3 linked regions of the Homo sapiens genome follow. The protein of the gene in region 1 purifies or fractionates together with the protein of each later gene. This does not show direct contact. Each region holds a gene or a part of one and is shown on either strand. Other genes may lie near its edges.

Region 1 (8,817 bases):
TGTTCGCAGTTAAATTATGAATTGCAGGGAAGTCATTGAAATAGTAGTTAAAGACATAAATTTTTAAAGAAAATAACCCTTTTAATTTTTAATCAATAGAAGGATTTTTAAGTTGTAATCTGCCATATTGAATAGAAATATATCACTAAAAATATTTTTCTTGTTAGTTCTCCACTGTTTGTCTCTATCAAAACATTAAATACGGAATTTTCCAAAGAAAGTTTCTATGATTTGAAATAAAATATGAAAAACAAAAGGCTTAACAATTTCTCTATAATGTGCTCAACTAAAGATACATCTACTTTTTAAAATTCTGAATACAAAAAATCATTTAAACTTCATGGATATTTTTATATTCATGGGTAAGAATTTTGGAAACAGTGGTAAATATTTTCAAAATGACATAGATTTTACTTTTCCAGTCCTCATTTTAATTGAATTCCTAAAGATTCTATTTCTAAATAGTCATGAACCAAAGATTTGTCCAGCTTGGAATACAGCTGTATCTTCAATAATAAAGCTGATCAAGTCTTTTTGCACAATTGACATACACTGTTGTTTTAACATTTTTATGTTTTAGAAACAGAAGTTTAATATTAATACTTTTATTATGCAACATTAAAGTCTAATTGCTTTTATGATTTTTATAATAAAGAGGGCCAAAGCAAAGTAGATAATACCAAGTCACTGAAGAATAAAAATAAATAATGCCTTAGATTATTCAAAGAAGCCCAATTTCTTTTTTTTCTTTCTTTCTTTTTTTTGTTTGAGACAGGGTCCCACTCTGTCACCCAGGCTGGAGTACAGCGGCACAATCATGGCTCACTGCAGCCTCGACCTTCTGGTCTCAAGTGATCCTCCCACCTCAGCCTCCCAAAGTGCCTGGATTACAAGTGTGAGCCACCAAATTTGGCCAAGAACCCCAACTTCTATTATGTAGTCTTCTCTCTTCTACAGCAACACTCAAGAGGGTCAGAATGAAATGTACAACACTTTTACAAAGCACACCCAGAATCTACGGGTTACCTCAGTGCCTCATCCCAGATTTTGATATGGATTTTTAAGTTGACTTTTCATCACCCATTAATTTTTTCAAACTCACACTGGGAATAGAACATATTTTATTACTGCAATATGTTGACTCTTTACACCCTTTGTAGGAATTTGTGTTACTTATAAAGAATATAACTGTAAACAAAGATGACAAGGTATTTTTCTCACCAAAAACATTTTTTCTGTACTGAGTGGTTCTTGAACAAAGGAAGCTTACTTGACCTACCTAATGTGTAAGGAATTAGGTACAGAAGCTGGTTAGGTAAGGCAAAGAATGAGGATGAGAAATTTACTTATCAGGGGTTTAGAGCGGTCATTAGAAAAGCCTCTACTTCCCAGACTGGTTTGTCCTGCTCAGTGAAGAGTGTTTTATTCCAACATCCTCTTTCCCTAACAGGCATTTAAAATAATGAGAGAATTTTTTAAAACAAGATATTTACAGTAAATAAAAACCTGTCACCACAAAGTGGGGAAAGTTGCTGACATTTTCCTGGGCATAGGATATGCTCATTGAATATGGCACCAAGCCTGCTTCCTTCAGTGAATCCATTTTATCAGCAATTAGGACTGTTGTTTCACTTAAATGGAGAATTCCATTATGACTCCTCAGCAACCTTAACAGATAGAAAGCTTTTTGTAATATTGCTAACTACACAGGAGGAAAGTAGTTATAAACTCCCTTTTGTGCTGTGGTGGATAGTCAGTGGAAAAAAAATCACCTTAAAATATTTCTCAGGACATGTTGGCCTATACCTCATTTGAATTCACGCATCTTTAAAATAAAATCTGTGCCTGGCGCCGTGGCTCACGCCTGTAATCCCAGCACTTTGGGAGGCCAAGGTGGGTGGATCACCTGAGGTCGGGAGTTTGAGACTGGCCTGACCAATATGGAGAAACCCCGTCTCTACTATAAATACAGAATTAGCCGGGCATGGTGGCGCATGCCTGTAATCCCACCTACTCGGGAGGCTGAGGCAGGAGAATCGTTTGAACCTAGGAGGCGGAGGTTGCAGTGAGCCGAGAATGCGCCACTGCACTCCAGCCTGGGCAACAAGAGTGAAACTCCATCTCAAAATAAAATAAAATAAAATAAAATAAAATAAAATAAAATAAATCTTATTTTTATTTTTAAAATAAAATCTTTATTTTATAATAAAAAATTTAAAATTTTTTAAATGAAAATTTTAAATAAAACATTTTTTAAATAAAAAATTTAAAGAAAATAAAAAGATTTCATTTTCTTTAAAATAAAATCTGGCTGTCCAATTGTTATTTCTTCGGTTGCTTTTCAAGAAAGTGTGAAGTCAAAAAGTAATTTTAAAAGGTAGGACTCTTCAATCTGCTTGAACAACAACAACTAGATAGTCTTAAATAAGTTCCTTTTATTTATTCTTACGTTGGTATTTTAAGTTAAATATTATACCAATAAGAATAGCTAGTTACGAAACAGCAGGAAATTCCACATATTTATTTAAAAAATAGACATGTTTTTAAAATCTCATTAATGACTTTGTAAATTGTAATACCTACCTTTGGTAAGGGTGCAATGAAATAAACACCCATAGGTACTAGTGGACATGGCATAAACTGCTACTATCTTTCAGAAAAGGCAATTTCATAATATACATCAAAACCCTAACATGTTTGACCCTTTGCTTCAGAAATTGAACTTTTAGGAATTTAGCCTGATGGAATGTATAATTAAAGAAATGGACAAATACTTGTGTGCAAATGTGTTTGTCATGACATTATCTGTAATACAAAAAAGCTGGAAAAAACATAAATCTACAATAACTGGGAATTGGTTAATGAAATAGTAGGCTATTCATACAATAGATTGCCACATAGGCATCAAGAAATATCCTATTTGAAATTAGTATATACAAACAAAGAAAAAATGTTAAGTTGTTATCTCTCAGTCCAGATGTCTTATTTTCTTTACTCTTTTCTGTATTTTCCAAATTTCCTTCAGTGAACATCTTCAGTTAAGAGGCCTTAAAAGTTCATTTGCTAGTATTATGCTGAAAAGTTCTTTTTTAAAAAATAAAACTACAGTTCAGCACAAGTGAAATTTAATGCTCTTTTTACTATCATTGTATCTTTCGAATATCTGCACCATTATTTGCCTTCCATATGTATTAAAATATGGAAAGAGCCAAAAGAGACATGTAATTCAAGCTCCCCTTTCTTCCCAAATGAAATTCCCCCAAATAAGACCACCATATTTTCAATTTATTAGGCACTTCCGCTTAACTTCTCTTCATAATTATAAGGAGTTCTTTTGAAGTTTATATGTCCTTGTCTTTGTGTTTGATCTGTCTCTTCACTGTGCTGTAGGGACACATCTTCCGCCTTTAAATTCCATCAATCTCCCTTCACCTCCCGCTTCTCCTGTGTCCTAGACAGTGTGTATAATTCTTTGCTCTTCAGCGTATTCAATATAAAGAAGGTAGCATATAAAACAGTTACATAATGCAAGCTTTATTCGTAGTTAGAAAATCATTATCAAAATGTTACCATTGCAATCATTTCCATAGACTGTCACGTAACCAACACCTGCAATGGGGAAGTGGTACACAATCCAACACAACTCATTAGGGGCTCTCAGTCTATTCAATCTCTGACACTCCAGCAGCCTCAGTACCACTTCAGGAGCCAATGCAGTCTACCTCTCTCCAGAGAGCAGTGTTCCACCTTTCTGGGACAGAAGTCAACAATCGCGTTCCCCAAGAGATGGAAAAGAAGTGGAGGAGGGTGAACAGGTTACCAAACCCACTTAGATACACTCCGCATAGACTAACTCTCCAAATTAAAGGACAGGAGGTCACCTGAGCTGACCATAAAAGCTCAGAGTGCTGATGCGAATAAGATCAGGGAAGGCTGCTTATTAACACCGTGGTCACTACAAAAGTTCTTGAGGGCATCTGCTGTGAGTTTTCCATCGTTCCTTATTGTCCTCCTGCATCTCCTGTTGCTTTTCTTGGCCCTCTCCTTTTCGCATTTTCTATGTCCTTTGCCCAGCAGTAGTACTGCAGGCATAAACCATTGTCGACCTGAGAATTAAATTAGCATTTGGTAGCCAGACCTCTCCTTGAGCCTTAGAATGCTTGTGTGCTTGAGGTCCCTGAAGTGTAACGTCATCTCAAAGCGCAAGTAACTAAAGGGAACCTACATGTGACAAGGTGCAGCGGAGGTTCAAGCAGAGCACCCTGGCCGCATCGCAACAGATTATAAAGTGTAGGGGATGAAAATGATGGAAGACATCAGAAAGCCGAGCTGTAAAAAAGCCCAAACTAAGCAAACTGAGACGCGCAAGCGCGTTGCTCACAGCTCGTCTCCCGAGGCCGAGCCACAGCGCCTGCGCACAGAATCCGGGGAGGGTGGGGAAGAGATGAGCACCCAGGCCTGGAGCTCCCACTGCCTCAGCCTCCCTATCCCCGCAAGCTCCGCCTCCTCCAGCTGCTCGCCTTCCCAAACAACCGGGTTCGCCGCCGGCGCTTTCTGCCCATTGGCCCTTAGCCTTTTCCGTTTCCGCCCAGCCCTCAAAATCCACCAATCAGTTTGCACTTTTGGGTGAGGGTCCACCTCCAAGGCTGTCGCTCCGGTTCCTCTGCCTCCTCTGGCTGCTGCCTCCGCAGCTCCCTCCTCCTACCCCACCTCCTCCATCTGGGGAGCGTCTGCGGGGGCCTGAGGGGCGGCGGCGGCGGCGGCGGCTGCGATATGGAGCCAGGGGCCGGCGGCCGAAATACTGCTCGTGCGCAGAGGGCCGGGTCCCCGAACACTCCGCCGCCCCGGGAGCAGGAGCGGAAACTGGAGCAGGAGAAGCTCTCCGGTGTGGTGAAGAGCGTCCACCGGCGGCTCCGCAAGAAGTACCGAGAAGGTAAACAGCGCGCTGAGTGAGGGAGGAAGGGGAGGCCTCATCACCCCCAACCGCTTGTCACCTCTTCCCTCCTCCAAAGAGGCCACCATTAAAATGTAAAGGATCTGCACGTCCCCCCAGCCGCTGCTGCTCTCCCGGGCCTGGTCTGAGCCCCCTAGTCGGCATCAGACGCGCTCCTCCCCGCCCCCTTTTCTTTGAGGGCCCTTCGGGAGAGTTCTAGGCCTGTAAAGGAATTGAGTCCCCACCCCCTCCAAGCCCCTGTCCCCAGCCGGGGTGCTGAGGTTGTTGTCTCGGCACACACAAACACATACACGCTCACAGAGGAGGTGGGGGTCGCTTTTTGCAAGAGACGCCGAGGTAAAACAAGACAGGTAAAATCCATTTGTAAAAGACGAAAAGAAACCTGAGTTGTCCCTCCTTTACGCTTGACCTACCGGCTGTACCATTTGCTTCCTTATCAGACCCCCTTCCTAGTACTTCATTCCTACAACCATGCCGAGCCTTCCTCGCATTGGCTTCCAGGGCTGGGAAGCCAGCAGGCCTTTTAGCTGACTGGACTTCACATTGTTAAAAGGGGGCGGGCTACACTCGTGGCCCCCACTCCCATTTCTTAAATACTTGGTCTTAACTGTTTATTTAGGCGATGAGGAAGAGATCTGGGCAGGTTCTGAAAATACCGTTTGTATTGGAAGCCTCCTAAAGACACCTGCCGATAAAGCCCACCCTCGGCTTCCATGGATGGGGTTCCGGTGAGAACCCCCTCTGTGGAAGCTCATAGGGGAAGAAGCCTTAGTGGCTTTTGCCTGTGCCTGAAGAGTGTTTATAGTTGGAGTCTACAGTTATCCTTGATATCTTTAAATATAGGCTTTTGTACACAGCTGTTTTATAAGATTTTGACAGTGAAAATTCTGTTTTCATAGGCTTGGGAGAGAGACTTCTCCTGAGTATCGAAATGAGGAAAGCTTTCCACTGGTTCTCATTTTAGCTTAATTGCAAACTGAAAAGTCAGCAGCCTTCTGGTGTTAGTCCTATACTTAGTTAATAATTTAGGATTAGAAGGAAAATTATGGCAGTGAAGGAATACAGACAGGTAAGATCATGTTACTGTTGATTTATACACACGTTTCAACTACTCTAGAAAGTTAAAACTAAGTATCCTTTGTTCTTTTGAATGTAGTTGATATGTTTCATTTTTCAAACTTTAAAGGTTTCTTTCCTTAGCAAATCAAGCTTAGCTTTTAATAGAGGCTGTTTAATCATCCCCAAATGGGGCTTGTAGTTATTGTTTAACAGATAGCAATAGAAAGAGTCTTATCAGACCTACTTAGGATGGTAAAATATGTTTTTTGAAAGAATGCTACCCAAACCCACAATTTAGTCAATAAAATGAGTAGTTACCATAGCAACAACTGCATCATTCTTGATATTCAAAGAATGCTCTTACATAATGGAATTCACTGTAGATTTTATGTTATTTGGAGAGATTAGGAAATAAATGGACACATTTTCCTGCAATTTATCCTGCTATTTTGTACAAATTTAAGTGCATCTTTCTAAAGAGAAAAATGACTAGCATAGAATTCCATTTCTATTTTTACCTTTTAATAATTTCATTATTCATTTATTCATAAATGAATAGGTTCCACTCAAATTAACACACTAATGTGGCATCTCTTCAAGTGCTGTTTATATGTGCTTAGTTCCCACATGTTTAACCATGTTTTAAGCCTGAGTATTAACCACAGGAACTCTTGTTTATGAGAATCGGAAGTTACCAGATCTAGAATAGATACATGGAGTTCATAAGTGAATGATCTAGTATGCTTCTGGGGAGTTAAAGTCCTGGCAGTTTAAACATTTGAATGAGACTATTCTTTAGGCGCTTTAATACCCTGAATTTCACCGGTGATCTAGACTTCTCTAGGCTTTGCTTGAATGATATACAAAGCCCCATCAGTGAATTAGCAGAATAAGTGATCCTAATGAGCATGCTCCTTCTACCTTTATTTCTGACATATAGGCTAAATATTAGTAGTAAAAAAGTCATCTGTGAAAAACTCTGTGCACATAATAATACTAAGGAAATAATTTTTAGTGTTTTACTTTGAGGACTTAGTATTGTGCTGATGGTCCCCAGTCTGTAAACATATTTTACAAGTTCATTTGCAAGTCAGCTGTTATTGTAATCTGAAGATTGCTTAAGTGCTAGATCAGTCTGCAAAGGCCCATTGAATCAATAACATACCTGAACTATAGCACCAATAACTATGGAAACTGTACCCCTTTTATCACAATTCTTCTACCAGCAAATGCAGTGAAAATTCCAGCTTAGGATCTTGGAGTTTTAGACTAGAAGGAACCTCTTAGCATTTAGCAGTGATTCCCAAACATGGCTGATCAGCAGATTCAACTGGGTGCCTCTTAGACAATTCCTGTATTCTACCTCAGATCTATAGTTTAAGATCCCTATTATTAGGAACTGGAAATTGTCAGCCAGATATTAGAGTGGTGATCTAATAGCTTCTTCATTTTACAGATAAGTGAGCGGAGTCCTAAAAATATTAAAATAACTTTCTTGATGCTTTGGTAGTTCATTATTAATACTATACATATTTTATGGGAATAATATAGGTTCCCCACCCCCAACTCCAAACCTAATATTAGTGACTCCAAATGTTAGAATAGGAGGGAAAATGAGAAGCAGGAAGTGGCCCTAGAATTTCCATTAGGTGAAAAGTTATAAATTGATGGGAATGGATGATCCATAGGATAGGTATGATTAGCTGAGTTGGGGCTATACAAGGTGAGGGTTTTTTGGGGAGAGATGGCAGGGAAGGAAATAAGTTAGGGTAGAATAAGGAGGCAAAACAGCCATTGAATATTAAGGACAGGATAGATAGTGACTGGGAGGTTGGAGAACAGAGCCTTCTTTTCCCTTATCTCTATTAGTGGAATTGAAAATAAAACAGGAAAAACAATGAAAATAAGTTGTGTTGTTCTTTTTTGCTGTGATAAGAAAAGATTTTTTTCCACTCTTCTCCAACCATTTGCCCAACTGATGCTAGTTGATGGTGATGAACAGGCTTGGGGTGGGGAAGGGTGAACAGGGTTGTAAAGAGTAGCAGGTAGGCTTAATGCACTCTTTTCGTTTACCACTTTTTCCTTCCCCAGTTTATGGCCTGCCTTGTTTCACCACTTAAGAGATGCTGTGCCAATTTGTCTAAAGGTAAAGTGAGAACTGGAGATAAAGGTGTGTTCCAGGCAGCACTCGTATCTGAAGCAGTTACTAAAAAGAAATGGTAGGGAGATGCCTAGCAGTGGTGATGCGAAGGGGTATTTCTGGTGTCTGCCATTGATAGTTAAGAGACAGTCTTTTAAAGTGAGGTTATATTCATAAGATATTCATAAGATAGGTTTTTCACTATCTAGTGAATAGATCCATATTTATAAATGGAAATATGCTTGCACATATAGGTGTTTTCTGTCTTTGCATACATAATTTTTAAAATTTGACCTCCATGTAAACCAAAAATATTTTAAATGTATAAGAGTTATAGACAGCTTTTTAATTAAAAAAACTAGTTTCGCTTTTCAAACAGGGACTTCATTATTTAATTAGATGAGCCTGACAAATATGTATCAAATCAAGAACTGAAGTAGAGCCATGTGTGTTTTTGGTTGTCTTTGTATGATTTTTTTTTTCCATAATCGTATTCACATGAACCCATTCCTGTAATGATTGCTTTTATGCCTGGCATTTCTCTTTCTAAACTTAAAGCGTTTATGTAAAAATTCCAAGAAAATGTAAAAGGCTGCAGTTGTCAGGAGTAAAAGTACACTTTTCATTCCATTTCGTTTTTATTTTTTTAACCTATCTTATGAAT
Region 2 (4,761 bases), on another chromosome or scaffold:
GTCCATCTCAGAAAGAGCTAAAAAAGTGTCCATCTTCCTCAGCCCCTAGGCTGTGACCTACAGCTCCTCCTTCATCTTCCTCAGCCCCTAGGCTGTGACCTACAGCTCCTCCTTCATCTTCCTCAGCCCCTAGGCTGTGACCTACCGCTCCTCCTTCATCTTCCTCAGCCCCTAGGCTGTGACCTACAGCTCCTCCTTCATCTTCCTTGGGGCAGGTGGAGATGATTATATCCCCTCCCCTGCCCTTACTGCGTTTCTGTCTTGCATTCTCCCTGAGTGGACAGTCAGGTGGCCAGGAACCATGTGGTTAAATTGCCTTTTTGTTCTTTCCTGGTGACCTAAGGAAGAAATGAGGTAAAAAAAAATTACTCTGGTAAAAAAAAATCAGGCTGATCCATGCTGAGGAAATCAGTAGCCTTAATTAGAAAGTAGAGAGAAAGCAGGCTGGGTGTGGTGGCTCACGCCTGTAATCCCAGCAGTTTGGGAGGCCGAAGCAGGCGGATCACCTGAGGTCAGCAGTTCAAGACCAGCCTGGCCAAAATGGTGAAACCCCGTCTCTACTAAAAATACAAAAATTAACTGGTCATGGTGGCGCGTGCCTGTAATCCTAGCTACTTGGGAGGCTGGAAGCACAAGAATTGCTTGAACCCGGGAGGTGGAGGTTGCGGTGAGCCAAGATTGTACCACTGCAGTCCAGCCTGGATGACAGAGCAAGAGTAGAGAGGATTTTGCAAAGGCAAAATCCAGAGCCAATCCTCATCATATAATCAGCCTGTAGACAGGGAGCTTACAGTGCATAGTAGCCTACCCATTTAGTTTGCATATTTGACTTCATGTATTCTTTGGTAAAAAATTATGGAATGCAGATTATGTAGAGGATACAACACAGCACCTCCCCAAGGAACTCAGTCCAGGAAAGAAGACAGGCATTTTCCCTTCTTTAGTTCTGCCTACATCACTGTCTCCATTATATAAACCCCTCAGACTTAGAGGGCAGGAGCCACATCTGTTACCACGTCCTTTACAGCTCTTAGCAGGTAGAACTGTAATAAATGTGCCTTATGGAAATAGAAAAACCAGGAATAGAACAAGCCATAGATGAAAAATGGCTCCTCCTGCCCATTTCCAGAGCACAGGGAAGCAGAGAGCCCCAGCTTGGCGTTCCTCTTTTTTTTTCTTTTTGAGATGGAGTCTCGCCCTGTCACCCAGGCTGGAGTGCAATGGCATGATCTTAGCTCACTGCAGCCTCCGCCTCCCGGATTCAAGTGATTCTCCTGGCTAATTCCAGAACAATCCTGGCTAATACAAAAATTAGCCAGGCATGGTGGCACATGCCTGTAATCCCAGCTACTCAGGAGACTGAGGCGGAGAATCACTTGAACCCAGGAGGCAGAGGTTGCAGTGAGCCGAGATCATGCCATTGCACTCCAGTCTGGGCAACAGTGCGAGATTCCCTCTCACCAAAAAAAAAGATAAGGACCTTCCCTGGAGGAATGGATAGCCTCGAGTATGCGGGTGGGTATGTGTGGCCTGTCAAGACATGAGGTAGATTCCAGTGAGAGGCCCAGGATGGGATGGGGGAGAACGCTCAGTGGGAAGGTCTGCTGGGATGGGTAGGGAACATGGTAGGAGGGACGGGCTGTCTGAGCAGAGATGAAGGCTGGATGAAGAGTGCAGCCGGTGGGAAGGCTTTCTTTCACTATGGTGGTAGTGACATGGTGGACCACGGAGATGACGGGCTGCTGGGTGTGAGGAGGTCTGGTAAGCCATGGTGTTGGAAGAGGTAGAGGTCAGAAAGTGGTGAGGGTGAGGACAAAAATAAGCAGCCTGCATGTGCAATCTGGAAAGAGATCTTTCCAGATCTCTGTGTCTCAGGCTGTCCGAGAGTCCTATCAGCTACATTCTCTTCCCTTGCCCCTTTAACTAAGGAGGCGCTGATTAGCATGTCTTCCTGTCCTTCCCTAGGTTTGGGTTTGTACAAGATAAATATTCTGCCTCTGCTTTTAACTTCCCTGCTGAGAACAAGCCTCAGTATATCCACGTTACAGGTGAGGAGCTACGGGCAGAGTTGGGCAGGTGGGTCCACATCCCTTTCCTTGCACCAAGCCTATGGCTGCAGAACCACCTCAGCAGGCTCCAGGAGCCCTCCTGGTGGCTGCCACACAGGCGCTCCCCTTTCTCTTCAGGAACAGTGTTTCTGCAGCTGCCCTACTCCAAGCGCAAGTTCTCAGGGCAGCAGCGGCGGCGGCGGAACTCCACCAGCTCCACCAACCAGAACATGTTCTGCGAGGAGCGGGTCGGCTACAACTGGGCCTACAACACCATGCTCACCAAAACATGGCGCTCCAGCGCCACAGGGGATGAAAAGTTTGCTGATCGGCTGCTGAAGGACTTCACGGACTTCTGCATCAACCGTGACAACCGGCTGGTCACGTTCTGGACAAGTTGCCTGGAGAAGATGCATGCCAGTGCCCCGTGAGGCCAGGCTGCACCTGTGCTGGGGGAAGGTGGGTGAGCCACTGCCCTCAAACCCGGGGCGGAGGATTCCAGGCAGGCTCTAGGAGTCAGGTGTCCGTTTGCTGCTATCAGTGAGTGGGGGCCATTGTTTTTTGTTTGTTTGTTTGTTTGTTTGTTTGTTTTTGGCCCCCACGACAAGTCTTCTACTCTAGAAGAAAGACTTTGGAAGCAGCTGCTGCTGCTGCCACCACTCCTGTCAGCAAGTGCTCAGAGCAGGTGGGAGGCACAGATTGTCCGTGGGAGGGCTCCAGTGTCTGGGAAGAGGGCAGGCGGCCCCCATGAATGTCCTCGGAAGGGGGTGGCTCCTGGTAGCATCCTTTTCCTTCACCATCTATGGGATATTAGGGGCAGAATCTGCCACTTCTTGCCCAGGAGTGTGCACAGATGTAAGATAATTTTGTGAAATAATGTACCATAGACTCTCACCAACTGTATATACCTGTACATATCAGAAGCAAATAAAGAGCTCCACGTGCATCATTTCTTTCCCCACCCAGTTCCCCACAGAAGCAGTCCCATCCTGGGCTGGGCAGTTGTGCCAGGTGGCCGGGGTCATGGCAGTCAATGAAGTGGTCACAGATGGTGAGAGGGCTTCAGAATTCACTGGCTTAGAGTCTGGCTGGGAGTTTATTGAGAGATTTCTTTCATAGGCCACTGGGCAGGAGCAAGGATGGTTCCAGTGAGGACAGTGAGCAGGCAGTATAACTTACAAGGTAACTGCAGGCTCATGCTGTCAGAATGAATCTTGCTAAATGGGTGAGCTCAGCTCTGGGACGCAGATATGATGGCATTCTGAAAAAAATCAAAGGAAACATTTTGTAGACTCTAACTTAGGTTTTTTTTGTTGTTGTTTTTTTTGTTGTTTTTTTTGACACAGTTTTCACTCTTGTTGCCCAGGCTGGAGTGCAATGGTGTGATCTCAGCTCACTACAACCTCTGCCTCCTGGGTTCAAGCGATTCTCCTGTCTCGGCCTCCCGAGTAGCTGGGATTACAGGCACCTGCCACCATACCAGGCTAATTTTTTGTATTTTAAGTAGAGATGGGGTTTCACCATGTTGGCCAGGCTGGTCTTGAACTCCTCACCTCAGGCGATCCACCCACCTCAGCCTCCCAAAGTGCTGGGATTACAGGTGTGAGCCACCATGCCCGGCCTAACTTAGATTTGCTGAGATAAGACTCAGCTTGGTGCTTCACCTCAGCACCCTGCCTTAAGCTACTCAGGGCAGTTCAGGAGCTGTGGGTCAGAGGGGAGAATCCGACAGTGACTGCCACTTCTTGCTGTGCCATCTCACCACGTGGAGTTCATCACAAGCTCTGTTGATTTGCCTCCTCAATGGCTTTGCATCCATTCTCTTCTTCCCAGGCCCTGAGCTGCCACTCAGTCCAGCCTTCCTTTGTCTTTCTCTTAGATCCCCAGGAAAACCTTCTAATTTGTCTCTGCTTTCACTCCACTTGTCAGTCAGTCTTTTTATAAAACCACTGTGATTTTGCCCACCACTTAACTAGAACTTTTTGGTGACTTGAACTTCAAAAATCTTAGATGCAGCCCACATGGTCCTGCACAGTCTGGTCTGGTGGGCTGTTTGTACAGCCACCCTGGCCATCACACAGTCCCTGGAACATCACAAACTCTGCACCAGCTCAGACGCTTTGCACTTGCTGTTCCCTCTGTTCCATCTGCCTGGAACATGCCTCCCTCCATGCCCGCTCTGTCTCACTAACTCCTGGTGGTCAGCCATCAGCTCTTAGCTCAACTGTCACTTCTCCAGAGAAGCAGAGTTGGCCCTGTTACATCCTCCCACAGCACTTTGTACTTCTCCAGCATGGTACTCAACATGTTTACACTCTACCATGGCAGAAGCTTCTTTTTTTTTCTTTCTTTCTTTTTTTTTTTTTTTTTTTTTTGAGACATAGTCCGGCTCTGTCACCCAGGCTGGAATACAGTGGTGCGATCTCAGCTCACTGCAAGCTCCGCCTCCAGGTTCATGCCATTCTCCTGCCTCAGCCTCCCGAGTAGCTGGGACTATAGGCGCCCGCCACCATGCCCGGCTAATTTTTTGTATTTTTAGTAGAGACGGGGTTTCACCGTGTTAGCCAGGATGGTCTCGATCTCTTGACCTTGTGATCCACCCGCCTCGGCCTTCCAAAGTGCTGGGATTACAGGCGTGAGCCACCGTGCCCAGCCAAAGCTTCTCTATTTTGTTCATCTTTTTGTTCCCAAGTGTACATGATAATAGTAGATG
Region 3 (7,612 bases), on another chromosome or scaffold:
GCTCACTAAAGCCTCTGCCTCCCAGGTTCAAGCAATTCTCCTGCCTCAGCCTCCCGAGTAGCTGGGATTTACAGGTACCCACCACCACACCCAGCTAATTTCGTATTTTTAGTAGAGACGGGGTTTCACCATGTTGGCCAGGCTGGTCTCGAACTCGACCTCTGGTGATCCACCTGCTTCAGCCTCCCAAAGTGCTGGGATTACAGGCATGAGCCACTGCACCCAGTCTATTGTCAGATTTTTTAAAAGTCAATTTGGTGGTGTGAAATGGTTTCTCATTGTGTTGTTTTTTTTTTTTTAATTTGCATTTCCCTTATTACTACAGTATAATAAAGTTGAGCATCATCAAGTTTTCGCCCATTTTTCTGGTGAGCTATTATAGTTATATTCTGAATATTTTAACCATTATATGCACTGAAAATATTTTCTTCTGTCTTTTCACTTTAAGTCTTTTAATGAAAATTTATCAGTCATTTCCTTTGTGGTTTCTGCTGTTGTCTTTAAAATATTTTCTTCTCTAAAGTCAAAAATATAACTTACACATCTTCCAAACATTTATAGTTTAACATTCAGTTCTTTTATCTACCTGGAACTGTGTGAGATAAAGAGTCTAATTTCTATTTCTTCATACAGATAACAATTATTCCAGTATAACTTCTTGAAAAGTTCTTCTTTTCCCCCCACTGACTCTCAGTGCCAACATTGTCACTTATCAAACTTCTATAAATATGTGGGTCTTTCTGTGAACTCTCTGTTCTATTTTATTGGTCTGTCTATCTCTGTGCTAATATCATACCATCTTAACTCAAATTTCCCACCTTGTGGTTCTTTAAAAATGTTTCTGCTATCCTTAGCCCTTCGCTCTTACACATAAAATTTAGGAGCACTTTTTCAAATTAGAGAAAAAAATTAGGATTTTGATTGTCATTGCTTTGAATCAATAGATCAACTGGAAGAAAAAAGTTTGCAATATTGAATATTCCTATTCAACAACATGGCATCTCTCAATTTTTAAAATTCTTTTTAAGGTCCTAATAAAAGTTTTATCATTTCTCTACAAAGGTATTGCACATCTTTTACTTAGGTAATTTATATTTTTGATGCTCCTGTAAGTTTTTGAAAATTACATTTTAACTGTTGCTAAAGTAGAGAAATGCAGTTGATTTCTGTACACTGAACTTTGATAGTCTTTTACTGTCTATGTAGATTATTGGCTCTTTAATCCATGAATCACTTAATTTATAAACATGTATTTGTTAGCTATCTTCTGTTAAACTTTTGGTATTAAAAAAACACATATTCCTTTTTTTTTTTTTTTTTTTTGAGTCTCACTCTGTCACCTAGGCTGGAGCATGGTGGTGCAATCTTGGCTCACTGCAACCTCCCTCTCCTGGTTCAAGCGATTCTCCTGCCTCAGCATCCCAAGTAGCTGGGACTACAGGCACGTGCCACCACGCCCGGCTAATTTTTGTATCTTTAGTAGAGATGGGGGTTTCACCATGTTGGCCAGGCTGGTCTTGAACTCCTGACCTCAAGTGATCCACGTGCCTCGGCCTCCCAAAGTGCTGGGATTACAAGTGTGAGTCACTGCACCTGGCCAAAACACACATTTTCAAAATATAAAGATTGATTCTTTTGAGTTTCTGAGACTTCCTTCATGGCCTATGTGTTTTCAATTTTTATAAACTTTTTCATGTGTCCTAGAAATGAATGTGTGTTCTCTGTGGGATCCAGAGTTCCATATATATTTATTAAACCAAGCTTATACAACATTTCTGGAAGCAATTTTTATACCACAACTAATTTACAACTAATTTCATTTTTTGAACACGGTTATGGTTTAACATTCAGCTTGGTTCAGAATTAAGTATCTTTCAGTTATGTACCTCTTCAACACTCCTACAATATGAACGTTACTATCTCCTTTTTGCCAAAGCAGGACTAGATGTTCAAAGGGTAACTTGTCCAAATTCCACAGCAATTGAAATAGTTGAAATTTGAACTTTGATCTGTTTCAGTTTGTTACAACACAAGGCTTCTAGCCTAGAAATCTCAGCTATTCTTTATTCCACCTTTCCCTTCATCTTCCAATATCTATTGGGACATGGGACCTTTAAATTCTACACCCTAAAATGTTCCCTGATCCATCTCATTTATTATTATTTTCATTTTCACCAAAATCAGTAGTCAAAGAATATAAATGCTAGTGATAAAATACCACTAGCACACTATGTTGTTGCAATTTTTACGCCCTTTCACCTATATTACGGTATTTCATTTCATTAATAAGACTAATCAAAATAGGTATTACAACTTAGGAAACTAGTTCTCAGAGTGTTTATGTAACATATTTAAACTCCCAGACAGCAAGTGACAGATCCAGTTTTCTGAATGATAGGACTCTTTCTGTAGCCCTGTATTAGTAACAATGTTATTTTTAGAATAAAGTTTTAAGAATGTATTATCTATTGTAAAACATCAGACTAAAGCCAGATTCCCGGTGGGGAACGCTACTCTCAGGATCCTCTCACTCAGTTCCATTACCTCACTTCAAAAAACCTGAGGCCCAAAGTGGTGCTGTGACCTCCTAAGTGGAAAAGCTAGTACTCGAATTCGGATCCTCCATCTGGTGTCATTAACTCAGCCTCCCGGAATACGGCCAATCAAACGGAATTACACCAGCTTCTCAGAAAAAGATCTAATGGCTGTATCACAAAAGAAGGCATCTATTTCTCAGAATTTGTAGCCTTAATTGCCTTGGTGAATCCTCAAGGGACATAAATCCATCCTTTAACAAAGATTCCTTTGGATAGTAGAATGGTGAACGTTATTGCGCTTCCATTACCGCCCTCCAATTGGGAAGCCCCCAGCATCGAATTCGGAGGGCCGGCAATAGCAGCTCATGCCTGTAGGGTGCGTCCACTGACTGCAGGAAAAGCAATCAGGGTGGGAGAAACTTAGGAAACCACCCAGGGCCAAAGGAAGGAAAACTCAATGTACAAATTTTTTTCCGCTGGAGGCAAAGGCTGACATCCATACCTGTACTGGGCAATGGTCAGCGTAGCCTCACGTTCGGCCCCAAAGCCAGACAAGTGCTGGTTTAGGTAGGCCTCCAGGGACTTGCTGTCGAACTTGTGCTGGGGCAGCACTTCGGCCAAATCGGACTCGCCAGTAGCACCTGGCTTCATGATCACCCCCGCAGGCCACAGCAACGCGGCATCCACAGGTCTCGAGTGCCGAAGTCCTTCAGGATTGGGGCAACGTCCCCTCTAGAGCATGGGCCGAGGCCGGGGTGGGGTCTGGCTCCAGCCAACCGCACACAGCCTACGCGCCGTTGCTGAGCAACGCTTGCCCGCTGAATCCCGAGGTTTTAGCTCTAGTCAAGTGCCAAAAGAGCCCAATGTGTGTTCGGGTTTCAATTCTCCAGTCAGCGTCAGAGTTGGAGGCCTCAATTTTAAAGAAGGCAAAGCCATGGTCATCGTTGCGGGTAAGGAACAACGCAGAAGCCTCTTCCACCCCCAAATTTAATGCAACAGCAGGCGGAAGACCTGCAGGGTCCCGTTCAGAAAAAGGGCCGTCAGACTGTCGAGCCTAAGAATAAAAAGACCCTGTTTCTCTTAGATACCCGGTTAGCAAGGCAACATCGCTGGCCTCCTGCCCTGGACACTTATCACCCCGGTGCTGCTGCGGCCGGGTTTAGCCGGCCCAGCGAGGAAGGAAGCCGAAAGAGCCAGGTTTTTGATGAGGGGGAGCGATGTCTGCGACGCACCGGAAGCGGCTCCGAGGAAGGCCTGTGGGAGTCTCGGAGACGTGTCTGTCTGTGAGGCGCTGGGTGCACGTCCCCAGGGCTCTGGGCTAGGAAGGCAGCGGCGAGGTGCCTCCCCACGTACCCCTCGCGGGCCCAGCCGAGCAACGTGGGGCGAAGGCGGCGGCGAAGGCCCGGGCTGGGAGCGTTGGCGGCCGGAGTCCCAGCCATGGCGGAGTCTGTGGAGCGCCTGCAGCAGCGGGTCCAGGAGCTGGAGCGGGAACTTGCCCAGGAGAGGAGTCTGCAGGTCCCGAGGAGCGGCGACGGAGGGGGCGGCCGGGTCCGCATCGAGAAGATGAGCTCAGAGGTGGTGGATTCGAATCCCTACAGGTAACCTGCGTCGCCGGTCGGAGGCAGGCGCGGGGGACGAGGTCAGGCTCCGTGAGGTCAGAAGTGAGGCGCTTCCCACGTCCCGCTCATGGGGACGCCCGCCACCCTTTTCTTGGTCTGCGAATCCTGTTCCCAAATGGGCAAGGCCACATCTTAGTACTGATCGGAAGATATTCTTTCTCTTTTTTAAAAACCTCCAGTGAGTCAGCCATATGGTGCTGCTCCTGTGCCTGCTGAGGACGTGTGTCCAGTTTCCTATCACCCTTGCCTCTTAATTAGTCCGCCTCGCTGTGTATAAGACTGATAGTAAGAACTTTCAGAAGATGAGATCAAATATTAAACCTGCTAAGGTAAACTTTGAGTTTCATTAAAGGCTTATCAATGCATCTTAAATGGGGTCGGGGCGGGGGAGAGCGGGGTTAGCTCTATTCTGAGATATTCGGGTGCTCCTTAACATCTCAAACCATTCGACATTACCAAGACTGCCCAGGCCTCTCTTTTCTTCTTTCCTAACAAAGCTTATCAATTCAGCAGATGGAATATAGTGCAATGGTTAAGGGTAAGGACTCTACCGCCAGACTGATTGCAATTCAAATCTAACTACTCTCTTCGTAACTGCCTAACCTTTGGCAAGTTGTGAAACTTTCCGCTTCAGCTTCTCACCTGTACAATGAAGATAATAGTAATATCTATCTCTGTCATAGTTGTGGGGATTGAAAAAATCAGTATGTATAAAGGTCTTAGAGTAGCGCTTGTACATGGCAAGCCTTATACAAGATTTTATTGCTAGGTGCATTTAGTAGCAAGCAGTTATTGAGCTTTCACTGTGTAAGCACTTTACATGCATTGTCTCCTCCCACCAAAACCCTATGAGATTGCTACTATTTTACCCCCATTATATAAGTGAGAAAATTGAGGCTTAGAGAGCCACCTCAGGTTCATGCCTTGGTAGTAAATAATAAGGCCTGTCTTGCATTAGATTTGTCTTAATGTAAAATTCTCATGAACCGTCTCCCCAGTAAAAACAATTAAGTCGTGTAGCTAAAAATTGTATAGTGTTAAAGTAGATAAGGAAGATTTTATTGTTGCTTTTTTCCTTTAAAGAGCATAACAGTTTTGATTTTTAAAAAAGGTTTTAGTTTGTGATATATAAAGCCGCAGTAGAAGTCTTAGGGTGCACTGTTTTAACTGTGTTGCCAAATATGAACGGTTAATGGTCCAGAATTTTTAGAGATTAAATAAGCATGAACTGACATCTCTAATCAGAATAAGTGGAAACTATTTGACATTTTTAAAACATTTTAAAATTTTACAAATGAAGACTTTGAAATTTTCCCTCCAGAATGAAAAGCAGAGGAATATGGGTCATGAATTTAAGTTGTCTTTCAGACATTATTTAATATGAGATGATCCCTTGACATTGTAATTATAACAAAACTTTCAGAACTCAAGTCTAAATATGTAGTATTTTCTATCTGATTTGCACCATTGACTTTATTAAAATTGCTATACAGGAGATGGCAGTTTGATACCCAAAGCTGTTCACTGATATATGGAATTTTAATAAAGTTCAGCTTTAATTTTTTGAATTGTTCATACAGCAAATATTTACTGAGTACATTTTTGTCTCCAGTCCTCCTTGACAATATTATTTACTTTGTATTGAGTACTTATTGTGTGCAGACACTGTGAATATAAAGTAGACATGGTCTTTTCCCTCTAGAGCTTACCAGATGAGTGTGAGATAAATAGAAAAGTAAACATGCCATTGCAGTACAGGTGATAAGAATTATGATAAAGTACAGTGTTATTATTGATAAAGTACAGGTTATTGAATTATGATAAAGTACAAAAGGTTATAGGAAAGGGATATGTATGTGTTCAACACCATTTTAATTGCTTCAAGAGATACAAAAGAAATATAAAGCACCTGACTTTTGCTTCAGTTTGAGAGACTACATGGAGGTGGGATATTAAAAAACACAAGTAACCGTAAAATTATGTGTTATGGAATATAGTTATAAGCATGTGGAAAAATTGGAGAGGCTTTGAGATTAGAAAACCTGGTATCAAATCCTGGCTCAGAAACCCAGCTCAGAATACCACTTGCCAGTTAGCTGATTTTGGGCAGTTGATTAACCCAAACCGTTTCCCTCATCTGTAAAAGGGGGTTGCCATCCATGCTTCTCAGATTATTTAAAGATTGAAGGGAGCATCAAGGTAAGGATAGCAAATTCCTGTGATGGATCTGCCATCACTTTCTACCCAACCTCACTAAAGTGACAGTAAAGGAATTTTTTAAAAGAAACTCCCATTGAAAATATAAAGGGTTCGTATTAATAACTGATAGGGAGGGGTGGGTCCCTGTACTTGATTATAGTAACAATTTGGAAACTAGAGAAGGGATGGGTGAAGGTAACTGATTTAATAGATTCAGAGAAGTTTAATCTTAAGCTCGCAACCCAGTTTATTGCAAGAATCCCCCAAAAGGCTCAGGAATAGGCACAGGTACTTGCAGAACTTCAGGTAGGGCTAAAAAAAACTTTCAGTTGAAAATCTGTTGAAGAAACAAAAGCCCCAGATCCCCTACTCCACTGTGGGTAACTGGGCAAACACTCCTTCCCTACCAGAAGAGGAGAGTAGAGATTTCTTCATTAGAAAGAGTAAAATAGAAGATTTCCAAGAATAATTGGGGCAGGTCTTTGTACCTGAAGGAAGGGGTAAACTGATTGTTTACATGCTGAATGCTGTGACTGAATGTAAACTAAATGCTTACATACTGAGTGTCGAGACTCCCAGCCTTGCTTCTTCACTTCCAACAGCTGATCGTGGGGTTGGAACTCCAACTCAGGTTGGAGTTTGAAAGATTATTCTCTAGGGAATCTGATAGAGCCAAGAGGAAAGACTGAAAGACACTGACATTGTGGGTTTCTCAACTAAATAGTCTGGCCAGATGACCCTACAGTGAAGTCCAAAGTCAAACAGTTATTGCCTATATTGTTACCTTTATTAGTGTCCCACACTTAAATATGAACAGAACAAAGGATGAAAGAAACTTCTAACATGAAAGAAATAAAAATAGCAACTTGGATAGACTATGTAAGATAAACACATCCCCCTAAATTATCATTAGTATCCTTAGATGAGAGAAGATATGGTACAAATGATACAGGAACAAGGTGCAAAGTATTTAGATGATCAGGAATTCTTGCAAATGGAGATGGTAATAGAAATGAAAATCTTAATAGAAGTGTTGGAAAATAAAGTTGAAAGAAATCATCCAGAGAATAGAGCAGAAAACTAAAATAGTAGATAACTGGAGAAAGAAGATAAAGGACAAATCCAGATGGTTCAACTTCCAAATAATAGGAGTTCCAGATAGTCCAGGAAAAACAAACCAAACAAGGAAGTAACCAGATTCTTCAAGGACATTTCCCAGAACTGAAAATGTGAGTTTTCATTTTGAAAGAGTCCACT

What was found. The genes of interacting proteins can lie anywhere in the genome.
Region 2: the proteins of SAMTOR (region 1) and DEPDC5 purify together in Homo sapiens (co-immunoprecipitation; 3 studies listed by BioGRID and IntAct, with this or other methods). This does not show direct contact.
Region 3: the proteins of SAMTOR (region 1) and ACAD11 purify together in Homo sapiens (affinity purification with mass spectrometry; 2 studies listed by BioGRID and IntAct, with this or other methods). This does not show direct contact.

Annotation. Positions count from the first base shown.
Region 1 is NC_000007.14:112,935,707-112,944,523, reverse strand, and holds the start of SAMTOR (S-adenosylmethionine sensor upstream of mTORC1), read left to right. Parts: upstream 1-4,648; 5' UTR 4,649-4,773; coding exon 4,774-4,933; intron 4,934-8,817. UniProt on the Homo sapiens protein: S-adenosyl-L-methionine-binding protein that acts as an inhibitor of mTORC1 signaling via interaction with the GATOR1 and KICSTOR complexes.
Region 2 is NC_000022.11:31,904,019-31,908,779, forward strand, and holds the end of DEPDC5 (GATOR1 complex protein DEPDC5), read left to right. Parts: intron 1-1,965; coding exon 1,966-2,048; intron 2,049-2,186; coding exon 2,187-2,479; 3' UTR 2,480-4,015; downstream 4,016-4,761. UniProt on the Homo sapiens protein: As a component of the GATOR1 complex functions as an inhibitor of the amino acid-sensing branch of the mTORC1 pathway.
Region 3 is NC_000003.12:132,656,564-132,664,175, forward strand, and holds the start of ACAD11 (acyl-CoA dehydrogenase family member 11), read right to left. Parts: upstream 3,247-7,612; 5' UTR 3,189-3,246; coding exon 3,040-3,188; exon of another isoform or gene 2,934-3,039; intron 1-2,933. Other genes in the region: UBA5 (ubiquitin-like modifier-activating enzyme 5), read left to right, coding at 3,975-4,135. UniProt on the Homo sapiens protein: Acyl-CoA dehydrogenase, that exhibits maximal activity towards saturated C22-CoA.